Linked DNA regions of Homo sapiens. The protein of the gene in region 2 purifies or fractionates together with the protein of the main gene of each other region. This does not show direct contact. Each region holds a gene or a part of one and is shown on either strand. Other genes may lie near its edges.

Evidence for each region.
Region 1: the proteins of NRG1 (region 2) and HS6ST1 purify together in Homo sapiens (affinity purification with mass spectrometry; 3 studies listed by BioGRID and IntAct, with this or other methods). This does not show direct contact.
Region 3: the proteins of NRG1 (region 2) and TMEM39B purify together in Homo sapiens (affinity purification with mass spectrometry; 3 studies listed by BioGRID and IntAct, with this or other methods). This does not show direct contact.

The regions. Positions count from the first base shown.
Region 1 is NC_000002.12:128,315,855-128,323,302, forward strand, and holds the start of HS6ST1 (heparan-sulfate 6-O-sulfotransferase 1), read right to left. Parts: upstream 3,015-7,448; 5' UTR 2,710-3,014; coding exon 2,183-2,709; intron 1-2,182. UniProt on the Homo sapiens protein: 6-O-sulfation enzyme which catalyzes the transfer of sulfate from 3'-phosphoadenosine 5'-phosphosulfate (PAPS) to position 6 of the N-sulfoglucosamine residue (GlcNS) of heparan sulfate.
Region 2 is NC_000008.11:32,543,664-32,551,312, forward strand, and holds the start of NRG1 (pro-neuregulin-1, membrane-bound isoform isoform HRG-alpha proprotein), read left to right. Parts: upstream 1-4,647; 5' UTR 4,648-5,063; coding exon 5,064-5,163; intron 5,164-7,649. UniProt on the Homo sapiens protein: Direct ligand for ERBB3 and ERBB4 tyrosine kinase receptors. Concomitantly recruits ERBB1 and ERBB2 coreceptors, resulting in ligand-stimulated tyrosine phosphorylation and activation of the ERBB receptors.
Region 3 is NC_000001.11:32,075,928-32,082,952, reverse strand, and holds part of TMEM39B (transmembrane protein 39B), read right to left. Parts: intron 6,718-7,025; exon of another isoform or gene 6,699-6,717; intron 6,564-6,698; exon of another isoform or gene 6,313-6,563; coding exon of another isoform or gene 6,307-6,312; intron 6,191-6,306; coding exon 6,107-6,190; intron 5,790-6,106; coding exon 5,635-5,789; intron 1-5,634. UniProt on the Homo sapiens protein: May protect the cells against DNA damage caused by exposure to the cold-warming stress and facilitates tissue damage repair during the recovery phase.

The DNA.
Region 1 (7,448 bases), on a different chromosome or scaffold from region 2:
AACAGAACTGAAGGGAGTGGAGGCGGAGAAGAGGGACTCGGAGGGTGGGGTGCTGTCACCTGCCCGGTAGCACAACCCACTTCCAGAGTGGGTGGCAGAGGGGGCCTCCTGACGGCCCTGGAAGCCCCTCCCAACCCTGGCGCATGCTGCTGAGCTAGCAATTTCCAGGCTGGCAGCCCACCTCCGCCAGAGGCATCTGCGTTTTCCATTCTTGCTCCACACATGCTCCCTGGGCAGGGGGAGCCGGGCCTTCCTGGTGTAGCACCTGGGGCCCCATCGGCCCCACCTGGTCCTCCCACTCTCATGGACAAACTCCAGAGAAAGGAGGCCAAGGCTCTTCACCCTGGGGACCCACAGGCGTGCGGGGCTGCAGGAAGAGCATCCTGGTTGCAATCTAGGGCTGAGGTGGCCTCTGCTGAGCAGGCTTGTTTCAAAAGCTCCGGCTTCTTGGCGGCCCGAAGCTTCCACGCAATCCTCTTAGGCTGCCGAGCTAAGTCCCTCTGGCAAAGGGGGTGACCCCCATCCTTGCACCCCCCACAGGTAGGGAGGCGTCTGTTGGTATTGGTCAGTGACCAACTCTGGGAGCCTACTGCTCTGACTGGTGGAAGGGTGGGTGGGGGCATGGCTGTGGTCCCAGGCACAGCTGAGCCTAGCACAGAGAAGCTGGACCAGGGTTAGGGGGGCCCTGCAGCAGGAACGTGCATCTGTGCAGAGCAGACTAAGTGCTGGGCCGGAAGCAATCCTTCAGGGGCCCTAGACAGGCAGCTCTGTGACCGCCAAGTGTAGAATGTGGCTGTAAGAGGCTCAGAACATCACCTCCCAGGCTGGGAGCTGCAGTGTGTGTGTGTGTGTGGGTGTGTGTGTGTACAGTTGGGGGAGGGGGGAGAAAGAAAAGTGGGAAGATGCCCCTCCAACTCTAGGACCCCAATTTCCTGACAGCCTGAGAAAGACCACAGAGCAAGGATTGAGGTCTGTGCAGGGGAGCAGTGTCTCGGACTCTGCTCAGCTCCAGGCTGGCTGGACCTTCCAGGCTCCCCAGGCACACCTGAGAGCCTACAGCCTCTGGACCCAAGAGTGCCAGCCAACACGCCTACAACCGCCCAGCCTCCTACCACCAGCCTGTCTGCAAATTCAGTCCTAAGGCAAATTTGGAAGAGAAACAAAAGGCAGACAAGAAGCCCTGCTCCTGGCCCTTCCCAGCCCAGACTTTGGGGAGAAAGGCCCCGCAGGGCATCCCTGCAGGACGAATGGGCACCAACAGGAACAGGAGGAAAATAACCCCAACTTTAACTGCTGGAAACCCAGCAGCACCCCAGGTTCCCCTACAAACGGCTTCCCAGAAGAGCTGCCCCGGCACCCCTCCCATGCTCTGTGTCCTCACGCAGCTCAGCTCTGACATGGGGCTGGGGGACCCCAGAGAAGGGGTGTGGCAGCACAGGTTCCCTGGACCAGCTCAACTACCCCCAACCTGGCTGGTAGCTTCCTGGGGAAGGTGGTCCCCCATCGGGTGGCTTTTGTTCCTCTCTCCAGGCAAGCCTGTGCCTGGAAGAATTCGGCTGGCAGGCCCCACTGGGAGGACAGGCGGTACTGCCTCCTCCCCGCCCCCAGCCCCAGGTCAACAGGGCCTTTGTTCTACCTGCACACACCGGCAGGCAGGCGGGCAGAGCCAGCCCCCTTCCCTGGCAGCTCCCCCACCCTCTGAAGGCAGGCACTCCAGGCACAGGGGCGGCACCTCACTACTCTCACTTCCACTTTTGGGACCACAGCACCGAAGCGGCACGGGGAAGCCAACACTCCAGGTAGGCCACGCACACACCCAGAAGCCCGCGTCCCCAAGTCCGGCGGGCCAGACCTCACGGCGCACAGCAGGTAAGGTGGCCCGAGGGCAGCGGGCGGGGACCCTGGAGAAAACCCGGGCGCTGCGCAGTCAAGCCGGCAGTAGGGCAGCACAAGGCAAGGAAGAGAGTGAGAGCGAGGTCAGAAAGCGCGGTGACAGCCGGCTCACCCAGAGGAGCTGGGAGCCTCGGGCGCTCGGCAGGTCGGGAGGGGTGCCGGCGAGTGGGGGCCCCCAAGAGGGCAGAAGGGGGTAGGGAAGGCAGGGCCGACCCAGTACAGCACGGCGGGCATACGGCCCGGCCTCGGGGGCGCAGCTGCGCGAGGATCCCGCCGCCCGGGCGCTCACCTGGGCGTGCGCAGCGCGGCGGAGTCGCGGCGGTCCAGCACGCCGGGCACGCAGTTGGTGAGCTCGGTCCAGTCGGCGTGCAGCCCGCAGCTCCAGCCGGTGGAGAAGCGGGAGAAGAGCCAAGTCTCGCGGCGGTTGGGCCGGTAGCAGGTGCACTTCTTCTGGCCGGGCCGGCAGTCGCACGGCACCTCGAGGCGTACGTTCTGCACGAGGTGGCGGCCGAAGGTGGTGCCGCCCGTCTTCTGGATGTGCAGGAAGACGATCACGTCGTCGCCCTTCATGTCGAAGCGCAGCGAGCGCTCCAGCTCGCGGACCGGGAAGTAGTACTTCTTCTCGTAGTGGGGGTCGGGTGTGGGGAACAGGTCCAGGTCGTCGGGCGGCGCGCGGCCGCCGGGCGCGCCCAGGCTCAGTCCTGGGCCCGCGTACTGGTACAAGATGAGCATGAAGCACACCGAGCCCGCCACCACCAGCACGAACTTGCTGGCGCGCTCAACCATGGTCCTGCCGCCGGCGCGCCGCCGCCGCATGTGTCACCATCGCCGGGGCCCGGGCGCGGGGCGCGGGGCCTGGGAGGGCAGGAGGCGCGGGCGCAGCTGCCTCCGCCGCCGCCCGCGCTCCGGCCCGGCCCGGCTACTCGGCGCCCAGGCCGCCCGCAGCGGCGCGGGCCCCGACCCTCCGCGGTGCCATGGCTGCTCCCCGCCCGGCCCCGGCTCCCCGGGCCCGACGCCCGACTCCGCTCCCGCTCGGCCCCGCTCCCGGCCCCGGCCAGCACAGCGCTCTCCGCGCCCCCAGCACCAGCCCGCTCCGCTCCACTCCGCGCCGAGAACGCTCTGCGCCGCCCCGCGCGCCGCCGCGTCTCCGCAGTCCGCCGCCGCCGCCCCGCCCCGGTCCGCCCCTGGCCCGCCCCCGTGGCGTCTCTTGCCGTCGCCGCCCGCGCCGATCCTCGGCCCCGCCTCCGGAGTGCCGGGGTTCGCCGCGGGTGCTGGGCGCGGGACCTGGGTCTGCTGCGGTGGCGAGGCCGCTAGCAGGCGGGCAGCCAGCGACTGGGAAGTGATTCCGCCCTCAGGGGAGTGGGGGACCAACCGGCAGTGCGGAGCCGAGGCGTGGGAGGCTCTCCTGGCGGGGGCCGCGGTGAGGGGGCGCGGCGGCTGGCGCTTCTGGAGCCTGGGTCCGTACCCCCTCCTCCCCAAGTCCCAGCCGCCCACGTCCCCGCAGCCCGCGCGGGAGGAAAGGCCTTGACCTTGCACGCTGGGGCGCTGAAGTTAGACGCTAGCCTACTGGGCTGCACTTCCAGGGACCAGGGCGGCGGGGGCCGCCCACCACCAGGACCGAGAGGGAAAGCGAGGCTTTCCTTTCCTGCTCGACCCCCTCACCCCTGCGGCTGGCTTTGGGACAGTGCCCCGCAGCCCCGCATTGAAGAGATGTTGGGCTGTCTGCAGAGGCCTGCGGAGCGGCTTTATGGCTTCCTCCTTGTTTGAAAAGAATATCAGACGAGGTGCATTTTCCCCCATCCATGTTTATTATACTCCAATGAAAGAGTTATAAAACATTGAGCCAATTCTTAAGAATCGTGAGTGCCCACCAAATATTCTGTCTTTCGTGGGTTGGTTGGAGAGTCCAGCGGCCCGGGCCCAACCTGGCTGCGGAGGGCTCGCTCCACGTTGGCTCGTGTGTGGGCCGGGTGGTGCGGGCTCCTCACTCGCCGCCGCCCAGCCTGGCAAGCACGCGCGGCATTCGTGGGGCGGGGGGTCCCGCCAGGTGCCCACTCACACTGCTTGGGCTCTGGCAGTACTCGGAGGCTGCAGCCCGTCGGAAGCGCAGGAGTGGGGCTGGGACCTGCCAGGATCTCACAGCTGCAGGGCCGGCCGCGGTGGGCCCTAGTGTGTTGGTTCAGGCCAGCGAGGGCTCTGGGAGCGAGTCTGGCTGCCAGGCGTGGGCTCCCAGTGTCCACGTCAAGCCCTGCCGGGGACGGGGTGGGGGGGGAGGCGGGGTGGTGCCCTGCCTTCCGTTCTGTTAGGGACCGGAAGCGATCATGGGGTGTCAATTATGCCTCAGTAAAGCTGTTAAACGTAGACAACATCACACCAGAAAGCCCTCCTGGAAGCAAACCCAGAGAGCTGGAAAAACCAACACCCCAAACCCAGCTGAGCGGGCGGCATGCATTTTCCAAAGGGACCGCAAGAATATCCGCTGTGGACAGGCGGGTGCAGAACCCTCAACACAGCCCAGCGCACCCTGGAGTCCATGGTGTGGGGTCCTCAGTGGGACCTAGGGCCCCAAAGCCCCTGCTCATCTTGTAGGCTGCTTTAAAACTGTCCCTGGCCCGAGGGTCCTGGGGGCAGCTTGGACAAGCTTCTCCAGAAGTGACTCATTCCTATAGGAGTGGGGGTGCAGTCCCCATGGGACACAGGTGGGGCCGCCCTGCAGTGTGCTTGGACCTGCCTGCAGCCCCTTGACGCAGTCTGTGCCTGAGCCCTGGGGAGCCTTCCTGTGTGGCCTAGGGGAGCACAGCTGCCCCGGGTCCACCCCCCAGATGTCCTTACCCAGATAAGGATCCTCGTGCTACATCATAATTAAGGCTGCTCTTTTGGAGACCTGCTGGGTGCCAGGCATTGTAGAGGTGTCATTTCCAATTCCATCAGCAAATCTGCGGGGGTAGGCTGTGATATCCATTTACAGAAGAGAAAACTGAGGTTCAAAGGGGTTAAGACCCTGGTTCCAAGGTCAACCACTCTCACCCCATGAGAGTCAGCAGAGCTGGGATCCTGATTCCTGCTGTGAGCCCCAGAACCCTCCCCTTCCCCACCTCTGCACTTGCCCCAGCTCCCTAGGCCAGGGATGAGAGCGTCTACAGGGGCCACTCCTGAGAGCCTGGTGACCGTCACTGCCACCAAGGGGGAACGTGGGCCCAGAGTGTTCAAGGGAAAGCTGGAGCAGCTCCGAAGGCCAACGAAGCCATCGGTACTTGGGCCATGGCTCCACCCTGTGATGATCTCACTGTCCCAAGGGGGAAACTGAGGCCCAGGCAGGGACGAAGTGCCTGTGATAAGGTCCCACCCTTGAATGGGAGCCAGAGCAGCCTGACCCATGGAGCAACATCTCCCAGAACAAGCTATTTAATCCAACTTCATACCTGCCACACTGGCTGATGGGAAGCACTCACATTAGCCAGGAAGCCCTTTCTTTCTAGAATTCTTTTAAGAGGAGGGAAATCTGCCTGGCTGGCTACAGGACTTTGCTCAGTCTTCCACTTTGATTGAAGCCCTGCACAGGCACCTGAGACCCTAAGGCTGTAGGTGAGTTTCTGGGCTCTGAAAGTCAAGTCAGATGAGCCACCCATCAATCAGTGGACACTTGAGCCGAGTGGAAGGCAGCTCGAGCCCTCGTTGGCGGGGCAGCTTGCATCACGCTACTCCCCACCACTTCCCGCTACTCCCCGCGATGAGTCCTCAGTGTCATGTCTTGGAAAATGGATAGAAACGCACAGTCTGGGGCTGGCGTGGGGTTCCAGGAGGTCAGCGGACACAGCCAGGGTCTCAGGAGGCGCGCTCTGCGCGCTGTTTCCTTTCTTCCCTGGGTGATCTCCTGCGTGGCCAAGGTTTGCCCCAGCCCCGAGAGTGCATATGAGCTAAGTGTTTGCTAGGGGCAGCTTCTGGCCCTGACTGCTTGTGGGGTCCAAGGAAAAGCACTGGCAGCTCTTCTGCTCAGTGGCTTTGTCCCCTGAAGATCCACTTCACCAATTCTTTAATGCGTGATCTCTGACTTAATGGCAAAGAAAAGTAAAAGAACACGGCTTAGTGGCAGGCTGTGATGATCCCAGAAGAGGCATTAACATTCGGCTTCAGGAATGAAGCCTCATTCCCGGCCCACCGTGCGGTCTCAGAGTCTGAGAACCACGAGATCAACAGCGGCGCCCCCTCCCGGCGCACAGTCCCGCGGACGGCCGCGCGGGGGCAGCACGCGGCCCGGCCCCCGAGCGCCCGCGGTTGACTTTGCAAAAAATTGGGGGATTTTCCACACTCGCTTCCCTCGTCGTTCGTCCGGCGGCCGCCCATTGTTGTTTGCCAAGGGGTGGAGGAGGGCAGTCGTGTCTGTCCTCAGAGCCTCCCGTGGGGCTGGCCCCGCTGCCCACGCGGGGCAGAGAGAGGGGTTTCGTTTGGGGACAAACTTTTAGAGGGGACTCCGGCTCGCGCGGACCCGCGGGGCCCGGCCCCGGCCCCGACCCCGACCCGGCGGCAGGCTTGGGGCGCCGGGCTGCGCGCCGTGGACGCCACCTTCTCCGAGGTCGCCAGGCCCCGTCCGCAGCCGCCTCCTCCAGGGAGCCCGCGGCCCCTTTGCCGCCCAGCGGCCCCGTGCCGGGCTCCTCCCCCAGCACCGCGGGGCGCCTGGGCTCCCAGGCAGCCCGCAGACGCGGCAGGTCTTCCCAGGACCCGAGGGACGCGCTCCGGCCGCTGCCCGGGGACAGCAGGGGTCCTGCGGTTCGGTTCGAGGACCGCGCTGGAAGAGGCCCGGGGCTTCGGAAGGGCCATTCCCCTCCCTCCACGCCCGCCCAGGGCCTCGCTGTTCTTTGTGCCCTTTCTCTAGGCCCTCCAGGCCCGCTTCAGTCCTTAGGGGAAGAGGGTAGGATAAACAGAAGAGGAGAACCTGAGCAATTCGTAGGGGCAGCGTGGTCCTGGGCTTCCCCGGCCCTTGCCCGCCCCCCCCGCCCTGCTGGCTCGGTGACCTCCCCCTGGCTGGCCCCCTGCCCTCGCGTGTGACGTGGGGTTGTTGGCAAGTGGGGGGCTTGGACTGCTGCCTGGCCGGGATTCGGAGTCTGTCCAGTGGAGCCCACCCTCCTCCCCGGGCAGCGGGACTGTGGGCAGGCCTGGCGGGTTCTGCCAGCTTGGGAGGCAGGACAGGGACCTGGTAACGTTGCCCCAAGGGCATCGTCCTGGTTCTTCTGCTTGAAACTTCCCAAGGGACATGTCTTTAGACGACTAGGGTGGAGGCGGGATCACAGCCTGGATGGGGTGGGGGGTGACTGCTCGCAGCTTCCGGTGGCCAGTGGGTCTCCTCCCAGATGGCTGTCATTCACTGCCCAGAGGGGTTCCGACTCGGCCGGGTCGGGGGAGCCACCAGAGAGGGCACTGAGCAGCTTGACAAGCTCCACTGTTGGGGATGTTCCCTGGGGGTGGGGTGGGGTGGATGGCGGCTCTTTTGAGGGTGAAATGTTCTAGTCCGAGAAAAGTCACTCAACCATGGGGTGCTTGCTGCTCCCACCCCAGCT
Region 2 (7,649 bases):
TAATCATTAGTATGTAGTAATTTTTAAAAGTCACACAAGCAGAAAAACATAAACATAGATTTGATTTTAATGTTGTTTGAACATTGCCTTTTAGCATTTTTCTTTGAATTCTAAGCTCATAATTTTATCATAAAACTGTCTTTACAGCAGACAATGACTAATTAGTAATTCTATTAAATATTTGCCAAATGGAGGGTACCACTTCTAGTTTTGCCAGAGTGTCTTGCTGGTCAGAAGTGCTTTGCCTAATAAACTCAACATGCATGTTGATGCTAAGAGTCTAACTGAACACACAGGACAATCGCAAATCTGTGAATTATTAAGCCTCCTTTCACCTCAATTTCCTCCCTCATAGGATGGTCTTTGCTTATCTCAGTTTTGTGTGTATTCCTTTTGATTGCTTGTTAATGTCTCCTATTTATAGTGATATTATGTAACAGTATTATTTAATCTCCAAAATAGTATACAATTGTCAAGTACCATTGCTGTAATTATGGTGCAGATGTTGGAATATGCTTGGAATCACTAAAAGTGAATTTACCATAAGCTAAGGAAGCTTACTCTTCAGGGACTCTGACTTGCAAGAGCCTATTTAATTTCTTATTACCTAAATTTGTAAGTTTAATTTTGCAGTATTTTTCTTTTAAAAGATCCCCCAAATTTTATGAGCTTCATTTCCAGAAAACTCATCTGGCCTTGTTTTTCATATTGTATTGTCATATTTAATTTGTTTTTATGCCTTTCTCACAATATTTTAGGTTCATGAGATCAGAGACAGTATTTTATTTGTTTCTCTACTGCCTAGCTTATTATTTATTTATTTATTTATTTATTTATTTATTTATTTATTTATTGTTATGAGACAGGGTCTCACTGTCACCCAGGCTGGAGTGCAGTGGCACATTTATGGCTTACTGCAGCCTCAACCTCCCAGGGCTCAGGTGATCCTCCCACCTCAACCTCCCAGTAGCTGGGACTACAGGGGAGCACCACTACACCTGGCTAATTTTTGTATCTTTTTTTTTTTTTTTTTTTTTTTTGTAGAGACAGGATTTCCTCATGTTGCCCAGGCTGGTCTTGAACTCCTGGGCTCAAGCAATCCACTCATCTCAGCCTCTGAAAGTGTAAGAATTACAGGCATGAGCCACCATGCCCGGCCTGTCTATCACTTAGTTCAGTAAATGCTTGGTGAATGAATGAATCATATACATTTAGTGGTTGTTTTGAAGTTGACTCTGCTGAGTGAGATTTTCTTTGCATTCATGCATCTTCATTAATGTCAACTTTGTTGCAGTTTTTAAAAAAGTAATCTTTGTTTACATTATCTTAAGTTACTTGATTTAAAAAAGTTAAAAGTGACTATTTGCAGAATTCTAAAGTCCCATTACTGTCAACATGCATAATATTTTGCCAAAAATGCAATTTGTCTTGTTAGTCTTCTTTAATTTTTCCATGTTTTAAAACTTTTCTTGGAGTATTTCCCAAATGGGATTTACTGAGAGGATATATTCAGCCAGCTTTGTAGATTCTAAGAGTCCTTCTAAAAGTTAAGTCTAGCCAAGGAAAAATGTAGTGGCACACGATTGCGTTTCTCTTACGCTGTCATTTAATGTGAGATCTAAATTTTGCATTTCTTTAATGCCCAAGGTGTTTATTTTTTAAAATCTGTACTCTTTTTATCAGGAGTTATGTTGACAATTTACCTGGGAGCTGATATACCCTATATAATACATGATCTAAGACCTGAACAATACACAAATTAATAAAATTAAACCATTAAGATATGTCATCATTTCTAAATTATACAATTGGGTTTTTTTTTTAAAGCAAAAATATTCTTCCTCTTTTCTCCATCCCTTGTTCTGGTCAGTTCCAAGGTTTTTTACAAATGCAAAAGAAATTCATTTGCTACTCCTGACCACAGAGATGAATAATTTAAGGACAATATCAAATTCTTGATAAATCTCATAAATGTTTTAACTGTCCAAGAAATGGACATTTATTTGGTTAATCTTTTAGCTGGCCATAAATAATGTAATAAAACCCCTTAAAATTAACATTAAATAACATAAAGACCTAACGATTTTTAGAAAAAAACCTTTTTGGACTGAGCCTTGAATTTCCTGAGAATTCAGCTACAAGTGATAACTAAAATGTAACTCGAGAATCTGGATATGGTTCCAGAAAGGATTGTTGTCATGCAATTGCCATTTCATCATCTTTCCTTAAAGTCCCTTCAATATTTATCATTGCAATTTTTGTCCTGTCTTTTCCCCTCCATCACATCAAACCAAGGAAAAACAATTATTAAATGCTCATTTATACTCACCTCCCTCCCTTCATATTCATTCATTCCTCAGCCCTAAAATTCCTGTAGGAATCCTGCTTTTACGTTTTATCTTAAAGCCACCATAGTATCTGTAATCTCTTTTGTAGTCATGTATGCTTAATTTTGGAAGACTGTCAACTACCTCTTCAGGTTCATTCAAATGAAAATGTATCACAAAATCGTAGGCTCTTCCCCTATCTCACTGAAAAATTACTCTAAAAATGACCAGTAAGCTGTTTTGTTGAAGCAAAACATCCAGACCCTAAACAAAAGTAGCAGAATTACAACATTTCCATAGAAATGGATTTTGAGCTTCTTTTTTTTAATTGGGGAAAATCTTATTTTTTAAAAAAGAATCCCAGAATACATCTTTGCTTTCAGTCCTTCAATTCTAACATAATGCCATGTTAGAGAATATGTGGTAGTGTATACTAAGCCCTTATGCTGTCTCACATCCTTGGGACAAAATATCTGTTTTGAAAGGACTTCTCTGAATTTTGCTATTTCCTGCTTACTGAGCAGTGGCCCCCTCCTGGGAAAACAGAGTTATTTCAGCCAGTGTTCAGACTCCATCTTGCATACGTCTCTGTGGAATATTAATAGTGCTACTGAGATATATTCATCATCTTTTCTCTGCTTTTGCTGTCTTTATAGCCCAGTGAAATTTATATTTGGTGTTTGTAGGAAGGCTATCAGAAGCTACTTGGACATCAAACTTTTAAACTATAAATAATGATGGCAAGACTGCTAGGATATCTTTCCACAGTTAAACCCATTCAACAGAGTTTCGTTCTTATGACAGTGCAAATTAAACTAGAATAAAATTAGTGTGATTTTAGGACAGTTTTAAAGTGAACATATTTCCCTCCCTCCCTTCCCATCTACATATCAAGGAGACACTCCAGACTGCACTTTTATTTAAATTGCGGCCATCAGAAAATACCGTGAGAAGGTAGTGTGTAGGTAATGGTTCAGTTAGCATTGACCCCAGAAAATGGAAAACCAAGAGCAAGTCACTTTTAAAGTGAAGCAATAGATTTTGAATATGGATTGTTCCAACTCACCACTTCCCGACCACAACACAAGAGTATTTCACTGTAAATTAAGAGTCTAAGTTAACCACAGCTGTGGTATAACTCTGAGAATGTTTTCTCTACATGTAGACAATTCTGGATCCTTCCGTGGTGCCCGTTACCCTGGTCTTTAACTTTTGTCCTTTGCAGGGGAGGGGTCAATGCCTTCTTATTTCCTTGCTCTTTAGAATTCTCCACCAGAGGGAGGACAAGGGAAGGAGTAGGTTTCACGCGCAGTTCTGAGTAAAGTTTGAATCTGAGAAACCCCACATTCACGAATTAAGGATCTCCAGTTCTGTGTCTTTATTCTACCCCTCCCTGCCTGCTTTTCCACTCGGCAGAACTGAGTGACTTTCAGCGGCTGCAGTAATTTTAATTATTCTGAGTCGTGCTCCGAACTATGTTTTTTATCAGTTCCTCTGAAAATTAAGTTGTAGTAAGAGACGTAGTTTAAGGGCACCCCCTTAGAAGAGGCCAGGTTATTTTTTAAGGAAAAGCTGAAGATTTCTAACAGGCACTTACTAAACACACACACACACACACACACACACACACACACACGCACACGGCGCAGACCCAGCAGGAGAGCGCAACCTAGCATCTTTAAGGTTCGCTTAGCCCTTCCTGTGCACCTGGAAGGAAGCCTTATCTTAAACTCCCTTCCACCTAGAGTTTATTTTCGCCTGCGTGCGACAGGGCTTTTGTACTTAAGTGAGTTAAGGAATGAACCCCGAACTCTTCTGGGAAAGCCACCAACGTTCCCCCCGCACCCCTCCCAGGGTTCCTGACCACGGAGACTCTGCTTGGGGCACAGGTGTGGGAGTCGCAAACTTTTCTCTGCGCCGTCCTTTTCCGCGTGGAATGGGACGGAGCAGCCCTCCCAGGCGCTGCCTGGCTGCGGAGGGGAGCGGGCAGCGAGAGCCTCGGGTCTCCGCCTGGGTTCCCGGGTCTCCGGGGCGCTGGCCTCGGTCTCCGCGCAGCGTCCAGCGACCCCTGTCGGGGGTTCCCGGCAGCCGCGCCGCCACCCCCCGCCCGGCCAGCGCGGGAGGAAAAGGGGCTGCGCCCGGGAGCGCCGAGCCCAGGCTCCTCCCGGTGGCGTGTCCGCGCCTCGGGGTGGGGGTGTGGTGGGGAAGAGGGAGGGGGCGAGGCCAGGGGAGGGTGCGAAGGAGGCGCCTGCCTCCAACCTGCGGGCGGGAGGTGGGTGGCTGCGGGGCAATTGAAAAAGAGCCGGCGAGGAGTTCCCCGAAACTTGTTGGAACTCCGGGCTCGCGCGGAGGCCAGGAGCTGAGCGGCGGCGGCTGCCGGACGATGGGAGCGTGAGCAGGACGGTGATAACCTCTCCCCGATCGGGTTGCGAGGGCGCCGGGCAGAGGCCAGGACGCGAGCCGCCAGCGGTGGGACCCATCGACGACTTCCCGGGGCGACAGGAGCAGCCCCGAGAGCCAGGGCGAGCGCCCGTTCCAGGTGGCCGGACCGCCCGCCGCGTCCGCGCCGCGCTCCCTGCAGGCAACGGGAGACGCCCCCGCGCAGCGCGAGCGCCTCAGCGCGGCCGCTCGCTCTCCCCCTCGAGGGACAAACTTTTCCCAAACCCGATCCGAGCCCTTGGACCAAACTCGCCTGCGCCGAGAGCCGTCCGCGTAGAGCGCTCCGTCTCCGGCGAGATGTCCGAGCGCAAAGAAGGCAGAGGCAAAGGGAAGGGCAAGAAGAAGGAGCGAGGCTCCGGCAAGAAGCCGGAGTCCGCGGCGGGCAGCCAGAGCCCAGGTGGGTGCGCAGCGCGGCCCGGGCCCCACGATCCTCCTCCTGCTCCTCCTACTCCTCCTCCTCCTCGGATGCCGTGGCCTCTCCCTCCCCCTCTCCCTCGCCCGTCCTCTTCGCCCTGCGCTCTGAGCGCCCGTTGAGTCGCGCGGTGCTTCCCCTCCTGGGGGCCGCCGCTCACCTGGGCGCCGAGTCCTACCGGGCGCCTACGCCCAGAGCTCAGGGCAAGGGACAGCAGTCCCGGCCGCACCCTCCCAGAGTCCCGGGAGCGCTTCGCTCCCTGGCACGGCCCCTCCCCAGCGCCTTAGCGGCTGAGCCCAGCCCGGGAGTGGGACCTGGGCTATAGGAGTCGAGGCTGCGTGCGCGCGTGCCCCGCGCCATAAGCGCTTTGCACGGGGGCCGTGTGCCCTCTAGCGGGAAACGCTGGAATGGGCCGCCTGGAGGGAGAGCCGGTCCCCTCGGTGTGCCTGGCAGCGCAGAAGTGGGTGGTCGAGCAAGAGGCCGCGTGGGAAGTTAGCTTCGGCGTTTTGGGGCACAGGGCAAGCGATGTAGAGTGCGCGCCGGTTCATCTTGATTCAGTCCTGTGCTACGGAGACTCAAGAGCAGCGGCAGGGATTCCTAAAGGTCAGCGAAGCAGATGAAATCTAGTCCAGTGTCAGGAATCAGCTCTGCCCCAAACAAGTTCTACAAACTTTTGGCTTAACAGTTCTATTTTTCAAGACCTCTGTGATAAATATGGATAATTTACTTTCCCAAGAGATGTAAGAAAACAACCGTTTATCTGAATTTTTGAACCCAATTGTTTGCTGGTTATCTATATAATAAAATGGCAATTGAAGCTTTCTAGAAACAAATCTTGTATTTCATCATCAGAACACGAGCATGAACAAAAGCTTTACCTTAGATGTCCCTAGGAAGCGCTGATGCTTTGGACATTACCTTGGACAAAAGAGGCATGTCGAATAAATACTTGTTTATGAGTGATTGGTAGGTAGCTGATAAAAGAGGGGAGGAAGGAGATGGGGGAGAATTTATTTTTTGCCTCTGCAATTCCCAATTATTAATTGATCCAGATGCCTTAAGTCGCTTCGAGCGTACCCCCAACACACATTTCATGAAGCACTTCTGCAGAATTAATTCACTAGTACTTGATAATACTGTGGCTACAGTAATACTGTAGAAGTATTTGTCCCTTGCTGGAAGAAAACAAACCACATTTGCTTGGTCTTCTTACTGGTATCACTGATAGCATTTCAGAACCTGGGTTATTGGCAGAGACCTTCAGCAGAGTTTTGAGCAAAACAGAAATTGAACAGAGAGTAATTGTTTCACCACTGGCCATTCTTGTGCTTGCTTCTTTAATAAGATCCTGCTGATCATATTCACTTCAATTACTGATCATTGCCCCTCATGAGGGTGTATTGAATTTTCCCTTATTTTTACCCTATATTTTGGGGAGAGACCATAGCACTTTATTCAACAAGATAGGAAATTGGGGAGCTGGATTAGTTACCTCCCTGCGTGACTTTGTCTACTGTCCTTTCTAAGGTCATCATAGTACATTACGGAGATTTCAGACCTAGCTCAAATCGTTGTAAAGAGTTATTTTGGGGGCTCTTATCACTGTTTGTGGTTGTGTTCTCCTGTCTCCCTGCTCATTGGCTTCAGAAGAAGTTTCTGTGGTCCTCTGTAGATGGTCTAATGAATTAAGAAGGGGCCAGCGGTCTGAAGTAGCATCCTGTTCAGGTAATAGGTGTGCATTTTGTCAAGGGCTCCCAGCAGCAGTACCGTAACACAGCAACTTGACAAGTTCAGTGGGGGAGGGGCAGGCATTTCTGTGCCCTCCAGATCTCATCTACTAGGTAGGCAGCTGTCTTGTGATTAGCTACGCTCTCTTGACACAGAGCACCAGAGCTTCCTTGGTGGCTCTCATCTGCTTTCCAGTGGTACAGCAGTGATTCCCTGTAAACCAGCTAAGTCAGTATCTTTAAGTGACATTTGCTTAACTGTCTTCCCTGAAAAATTGGGGTGAATTTGGCTGTAGGTTAGTTTTTAGTATATTTGTCTCTGTTTTCCACCAGATTATAATCTTTTTTGGGGAGGGACTTTTTACCCCCTTCGAAGCATCTTGTGCTTTTTAAACCAGATAAGAATATGTATTCTTTATTTGATTCAGAAAGAATGGTCAACAACTTGAAACCAGCTTTATATAGAAGCACATGGCATTAAATACAATGCTTCAGAATCAGTGTTTCTTTCCTTCTTTGTCATTTTCCTTATAATGGTAAGTGCCAGTGTAGTTTTCCTTGTCTTAGGAGAATTCATACCTGATGACTATAATGGTTTGTGAGAAAAACCCACACTCTAGGTTTCAGGCATTCCCAAAGGAACGACCTATAGATGCCATAACTCTAGTATTCACACTTGCCGTGCCAGCCCAAATTAGGACTTAGGAGGACAAGTTTCTCTTGTATTGCTCCCATCTTAGTGCC
Region 3 (7,025 bases), on a different chromosome or scaffold from region 2:
CATACAAAAAACTAGCCAGGCGTGGTGGCGGGTGCCTGTAGTCCCAGCTACTCGGGAGGCTGAGGCTGGAGAATGGCGTGAACCCAGGAGGCAGAGCTTGCAGTGAGTTGAGATCGTGCCACTGCACTACAGCCTGGGCGACAGAGCGAGACTCCGTCTCAAAAAAAAACAAAAAACAAAAAACAAAAAAAGTTCCTGGCTGGGCTTGGTGGTTCATGCCTGTAATCCCAGCACTTTGGGAGGCCAAGATGAATGGATCACTTGAGGTTGGGAGTTCGAGACCAGCCTGGCAAACATGGCGAAACCCCATCTCTACTAAAAATACAAAAAATTAGCTGGGCGTGGTGGTGCACACCTGTAATCCCAGCTACTCGGGAGGTTGAGGCAGGAGAACTGCTTGAACCTGGGAGGCGGAGGTTGCAGTGAGCTGAGATTGTGACACTGCACTCCAGCCTGGGTGACAGAGAGAGACTCCATCTCAAAAAAAATAAAAATAAAAATAAATAAATAAAGAGGTCCAAGACTGTAACTCTGTAACTACAGAGAAGAAATGTCATGTATGCATACTACTGGGCCCTGGAGTGAATGATATTTTCATACACATAATTATATCAAAGCCACATACTGGTTTTTAATTTTCAGAATTAGGCTTAGACAAAGAATGGAAGGCTTAAATGTGGTTACATAGGAGAATGTGAATGTCAAGCTTGACGATATAAAAGTAAAAATACAGCTGCCAGGAAGTGAAAAGAGGAAGAGGGGAGGAAAAGTGGTTGGATAGGGTGCCTAATATTCTTGTCTTACATAAAAAGTATTCAAGATACTATTGTTGATGGAAAAAAAAAGTATAGGGATACTTATACTATTGATGAAAATAACCAACAGAAACTTAAAAATATTAAAAGCTATCAATTACTGGGAACAGTAAGGATGGGATCGTGAGCTAAATCATCTGTCATTGCAGGGAATCAATATACTTGCATATGTGTGTATGTGGTATGTTTGTATATGCGTAGAACATTTGTTTCCAGGATATACAAGAAACCAAAAACATTGATAATTACCTCTTGGAAAGGAAACTGGGTGGCTGGGAGGCAGCAGTCAAGGGGAGACTTTTTCATGGTATACTCTTTTAAACCTTCTGAATTTTAACTATGTAAACCTCTTATTCAATTCTAAAATAAATCAATAATTTTCTTTTTTTTGAGACAGAGTCTCACTCTATTGCCCAGGCTGGAGTGCAGTGGTGCAAACTCAGCTCGCTGCAACCTCCACCTCCCAGTTTCAAGCAATTCTCCTGCCTCAGCCTCCCAAGTAGCTGGGACTACAGGCGTGCACCACCACACCTGGCTAATTTTTGTATTTTTAGTAGAGAAAGGGTTTCACCATGATGGCCAGGCTGGTCTTGAACTCCTGACCTCAAGTGATCCATTCACCTTGGCCTTCCAAAGTGCTGGGATTACAAGCGTGAGCCACCACGCTTGGCCAATAAATAAATTTTTAAAAAGAATAAGCAGGCTAGGTACAGTGGCTGATGCCTGTAGTTCCAACTACTCAGAAGGCTGAAGTGGGAGGACGGCTTGAGCCTGGGAGGCAGAGGTTGCAGTGAGCCGAGATTGCACCACTGCACTCCAGCCTGGGCAACAGAGCCAGACCCTGACTCAGGGTCTTGTCACTCAGGCTGGAGTGCAGTGCCACTTTAGAACTGGATAATAGGTTTACAGACTCTGTCTGTAAACAAACAAACAAACAAACAAACAAATAAAAAAACCCAGAAAGTAAAAGAGACTGCTATTGAAGAGTGGGACTAAAAATCTGGAGGCGGGATTGGAGACTAATGTTTTTCTATGAAGAGTGGGACTAAAAATCTGGAGGCGGGATTGGAGACTAATGTTTTTCTATTTATTTATTTATTTATTTTTAGAGACAGGGTCTCACTCTGTTGTCCACGCTGAAGTGCACTGGTGTGATCATGGCTCACTTCGGCCTCAAATCCACCAGCTAAAGCAATCTTCTCACCTCAGCCTCCCAAGTCACTGAGATCACAGGCATGAGCTACCGTGCCCAGCAATGGTTTTCATTATAAGCTTTTCAGCACTATTGGATTTAATTTTTTACAATATGTTTATATTTGGTCAATAAACATTTTTAAATTAAATAATGAAAAATAAAGCATAATATGACATTGGGTGTTATCTGCATCCATGAAGAAAAGATTCACCAGGTAGTAACCATAAACTGTCAAATTAAGGCAACTCTTTTTTTTTTTTTTTTTTTTGAGACAGAGTCTCACTCTGTTGCCCAGGCTGGAGTGCAGTGGTGCAGTGGTGCGATCTTGGCTCACTGCAAGCTCCGCCTCCCAGGTTCACACCATTCTCCTGCCTCAGCCTCCCGAGTAGCTGGGACTGCAAGTGCCATCCACCATGCCCGGCTAGTTTTTTGTATTTTTTTAGTAGAGACGGGGTTTCACTGTGTTAGCCAGGATGGTCTCAATCTCCTGACCTCGTGATCCACCCGCCTCAGCCTCCCAAAGTGCTGGGATTACAGGCATGAGCCACCGCGTCCGACAGGCAACTCTTAAGTTCTAACCAGTGCAACCCTTTCGAAGGACAATTTGTTAATAACTATGAAAAATCTAAATGAATCCATCTTTTGGTGTAGTTAATTCTTCTGGGAATCTACTGTGCAGAGATACTGGACACATATGCAATTATTCATTGTTATGAATAAGGAAAAGCTAGAAACAACTTAAAAGTTTGCCAGTAGGCCAGGCACGGTGGCTCACGCCTGTAATCACAGCACTTTGGGAGACCAAGGTGGGCGGATCACGAGGTCAGGAGATCGAGACCATCCTGGCTAACACGGTGAAACCCCATCTCTACTAAGAATACAAAAAATTGCCGAGCATGGTGGCTCATGTCTGTAATCCCAGCACTTTGGGAGGCCAAGGCAGGCGGATCACCTGAGACCAGCCTGACCAACATGGAGAAACCCCATCTCTACTAGAAATACAAAATTAGCTGGGCTTGGTGGAGCATGCCTGTAGTCTCAGCTACTTGGGAGGCTGAGGCAGGAGAACTGCTTGAACCCGGGAGTTGGAGGCTGCAGTGAGCCAAGATTGCACCACTGCACTCCAGCCTGGGCAACAGAGCAAGACTCCATCTCAGAAAAAAAAAAAAATTGCCAATAGAAGACAAATAAATTGTGAAAATTCTATAACATAGAATACTGCGAGGCCATTAAAAAAATGAGGCAGCAGGTCATGATGGCGCATGCCCATAGTCCCAGCTACTCAGAAGGCTGAGGTGGGAGGATTGCTTGAGCCGAGGAATTCTATGCTATAATGTGCTATGCCGATGAGGTGCCTGCATAGAAGTTCAGCATCCATATGGTGAACTCCTGGGAGTGGGGGACCACATAATTGCCTAAGGAGGGGATGAACTGGTCCAGGTTAGAAATAGAACAGGTTGGCCAGGCGCGGTGGCTCATGCCTGTAATCCCAGCACTTTGGGAGGCCGAGGCGGGCAGATCATGAGGTCAGGAGATTGAGACCATCCTGGCTAACACGGTGAAACCCTGTCTCTACTAAAAATACAAAAAATTAGCTAGGTGTGGTGGCAGGCGCCTGTAGTCCCAGCTACTCAGGAGGCTGAGGCAGGAGAATGGTGTGAACCCGGGAGGTGGAGCTTGCAGTGAGCCAAGATTGTGCCACTGCACTCCAGCCTGGGCGACAGAGCGAGACTCCATCTCAAAAAAAAAAAAAAAAAGAAAGAAATAGAACAGGTTAAAACTCCTGTGTTGATCAGTAGTGGGAACAGACCTGTGAATAGCCACTGCACTCCAGCCTGGGCAATACAGCAAGACCCTCATCTCTAAAATAAAATAAAATAATGAGACAGACCCGTATGTATTGGCATAGAAAAATATCTGTTATATGATTAAGTGAAAAGTGTGGTAAATTGTACATCATGCATAGCATAATACCATTTTTCTTTTTTAAAAAACTGCATGTGGCCAGGCACAGTGGCTCACATCTGTAATCCCAGCACTTTGGGAGGACAAGGTGGGCAGATCACTTGAGGCCAGGAGTTCGAGACCAGCCTGGCCAACATGATGAAACCCCAACTCTACTAAAAATACAAAAAGTAGCCAGGCGTGGTGGTGGGCACCTGTAATCCCAGTTACTTGGGAGGCTGAGGCAGGAAAATTGCTTGAATCCAGGAGGCAGAGGTTGCAGTGAGCCGAGATCGTGCCACTGCACTCCAGCCCGGGTGACATCAGACTGTCTCAAGAACAAACAAACAAAAAAACTGCATGTGTGTGTACTTGCACAGAAAATATTTTGGGAAAATTGCTGCCAGTAATGGATTTCTGGGGGAATAAGACTATGTGGGACTTTCTTTTTCCATGTTAAAAGCTTCTGTAAAGTTTAATGTTTTTATAAGACATTATAATGTTTTTTTTTTTTAAAGACAGGACCTCACTCCAGTTGCTTAAGCTAGAGTACAGTGGCACAATTTCGGCTCACTGCAGCCTCGACCTCCTGAGCTCAGGTGATTCTCCCACCTCAGCTTCCTGAGTAGCTGGGACTATAGGCGTGCCTCACCACACCTGGCTAGTTTTTTATGTTTTTAGTAGACAGGATTTCGCCATGTTGCCTAGGCTGGTCTCAAACCCCTGGACTCAAGCAATCTGCCTGTCTTGGCCTCCAAAGTGCTGGGATTACAGGTTTGTGCTACTGTGCCTGGCCACATGTCACTCTTATAATTAAAAAGTAGATATAACTGAAGGAAGTGTGACAGGGCTCCCATGCCAGTGCCTTTTTGGACATGCAGGGTAGAAAGGGGGAGGTGCCAGCTCTGAAGCTTCCCAGAGACCAGGATTGACCCAGCTTGAGGAATTTTGTGAACCAGAAAACCTGGGGGTTGGGAAACGACTGTTAATGCTCAGGCAGCCAGCAGCCTGCCCCAGAAGCAGCCAGATCCAACACCTCACCAAAGTTCTCCCTGATGCAAGGCGAGAAATGGGCAGTCCTGGGCACATCCCCGAAACAGTCTCTCCATCCTCAACAATCTAGGGTCTGGTGAGACGGAGAAAGAGAGCAAAAACAGGCACAAAGGCATACACACATGCATATGCAGGCACACACACATGCTTCATGCATAGACACCCACACGCTTCATGCATAGACACCCACACAGAGACATGCAACCATGCAGCTGTTTGCTGGCACACAGACTCAGGGAGATACCAAGAGATTACACAAACACTGAGATACACAAAGAGAGACACAGAGAAAGGGAAAGAACCAGAGGGAGGGGAAAGGAAGAGCGAGGGAGACAAAGCCCATACATTCCCTCTTGGGAATGTTCCTTTGGGATATATATGCAGATCTGAGTCCCATTCTGACCTCCCCCATAGTGAGAGCTGGGTAAATTATGCCACCTCAGTTTCGTCTGCAAAAAAAGGCTAATTATCCTGACCTCAGTGAGTGAGTGTCATCTGACAATGTGAGAGGATGTTGCTGCCTGCCTCCGATCTTCCAGATATGGAGGCCTGGTGAGCCAGCTACGGTCAGGGCAGAGGTCAGGGGCCAGGTGCTGGGCAGTGAGGGGTGAAGTGAGGGGTACTCACGGATAGCAGAGGAACAGGAGGTTCAGGAAGGAGTAGGTCCTGAAGAGGTGGATGAGGGATCGGCACAGACTCCAGCCTGTTGCCGTGAGAACGGTGAAGCGAGTGAGGAACAGCAGGATGGAGCGAAAGAGGGAGACCTTCCCCCTCTGAGAGGCCTGGGTCGGGGCAAGATAGGACGGGATGGGGCCTTGGATGGAGGCCGAAGGGGCTGTGCCCAAATCCCACCCAGCATGACCTGTGATCCCACCCAGGGAGAGGTGGCACAGCAGGCTGGGCAGAACCTGGCAAGGTAAATCCTTCTCTTTGATGCCCAGTAAACTCCAAGATGGGATGTAACTAATGTTCTTCAACCAAGTCCAAAGGGAGCCCCAAGGAAATACCCTAAGGCTGAAGGGCTGGGCATGTTTCCTTGGCATCCCCAGGGGAAAAGGGGAATCCCAAAGTCCCTGGCCAGCCTCTAGGACCCAATCACCTCCTTCACGATGGACCCAATGAAGCGGCGGCCCAGAACGATGGTGGTCACCATCAGCAAGTTGAAGTCGATCAGATGGAAGTTCTGTCAGGGGGCAGAGGCCTGGGGGTCATGTGGGCCCCTTGCCCATATGCAGGCTTTTTTCATACCCACCTCCCGCTGCCCATTTCTTTCCACAGAGACTGTCCTCATTCTCTGACCTTCATCGGCCTCCAGCTGAGTCAGGCCAGGAAATTACCTACAGGAGTAGGACAGGACCCCGAGAAGGGAAGTGGGACAGTCCCTGGGGATAAGAGAGTGGTATGTGAGCCCTCTTGCTCTGCTCACACATGCCCCTGTCCCTATACTGTGTCTGCACTGAAGTCTTTCCTCCCCTTGAAGCACTCATGTATCCCTGTGGTTCATCTCCACTACTGGATTAAGACTCTCAGCTCCTGGCCGGGCGCGGTGGCTCACGCCTGTAATCCCAGCACTTTGGGAGGCTGAGGCGAGTGGATCATTTGAGGTCAGGAGTTCGAGACTAGCCTGACCAACATGGTGAAACCCTGTCTCCACTAAAAATACAAAATTAGCCGGACATGGCGGCACACACCTGTAATCCCAGCTACTCGGGAGACTGAGGCAGGAGAATCGCTTGAAACTGGAAGGCGGAGGTTGCAGTGAGCTAAGATTGCGCCATTCCACTCCAGCCTGGGCAACAACAGCGAAACTCCGTCTCAAAAAAAAAAAAAAAAAAAAAAAAAGAAGAAAAGAAAAGAAAAGGACTCTGAGCTCCTTTAGGCAAAATCTTTGTCAGATTCATCTCCCATACACTTACAGTGCCCAATGTGCTACTAAACACACTAGGAGTATTCAGTGAATCATCAGTTTCCTGTTCCTTCAGCACCTTCCATGTTCAGCATGGAGCCAAGTGCACAGT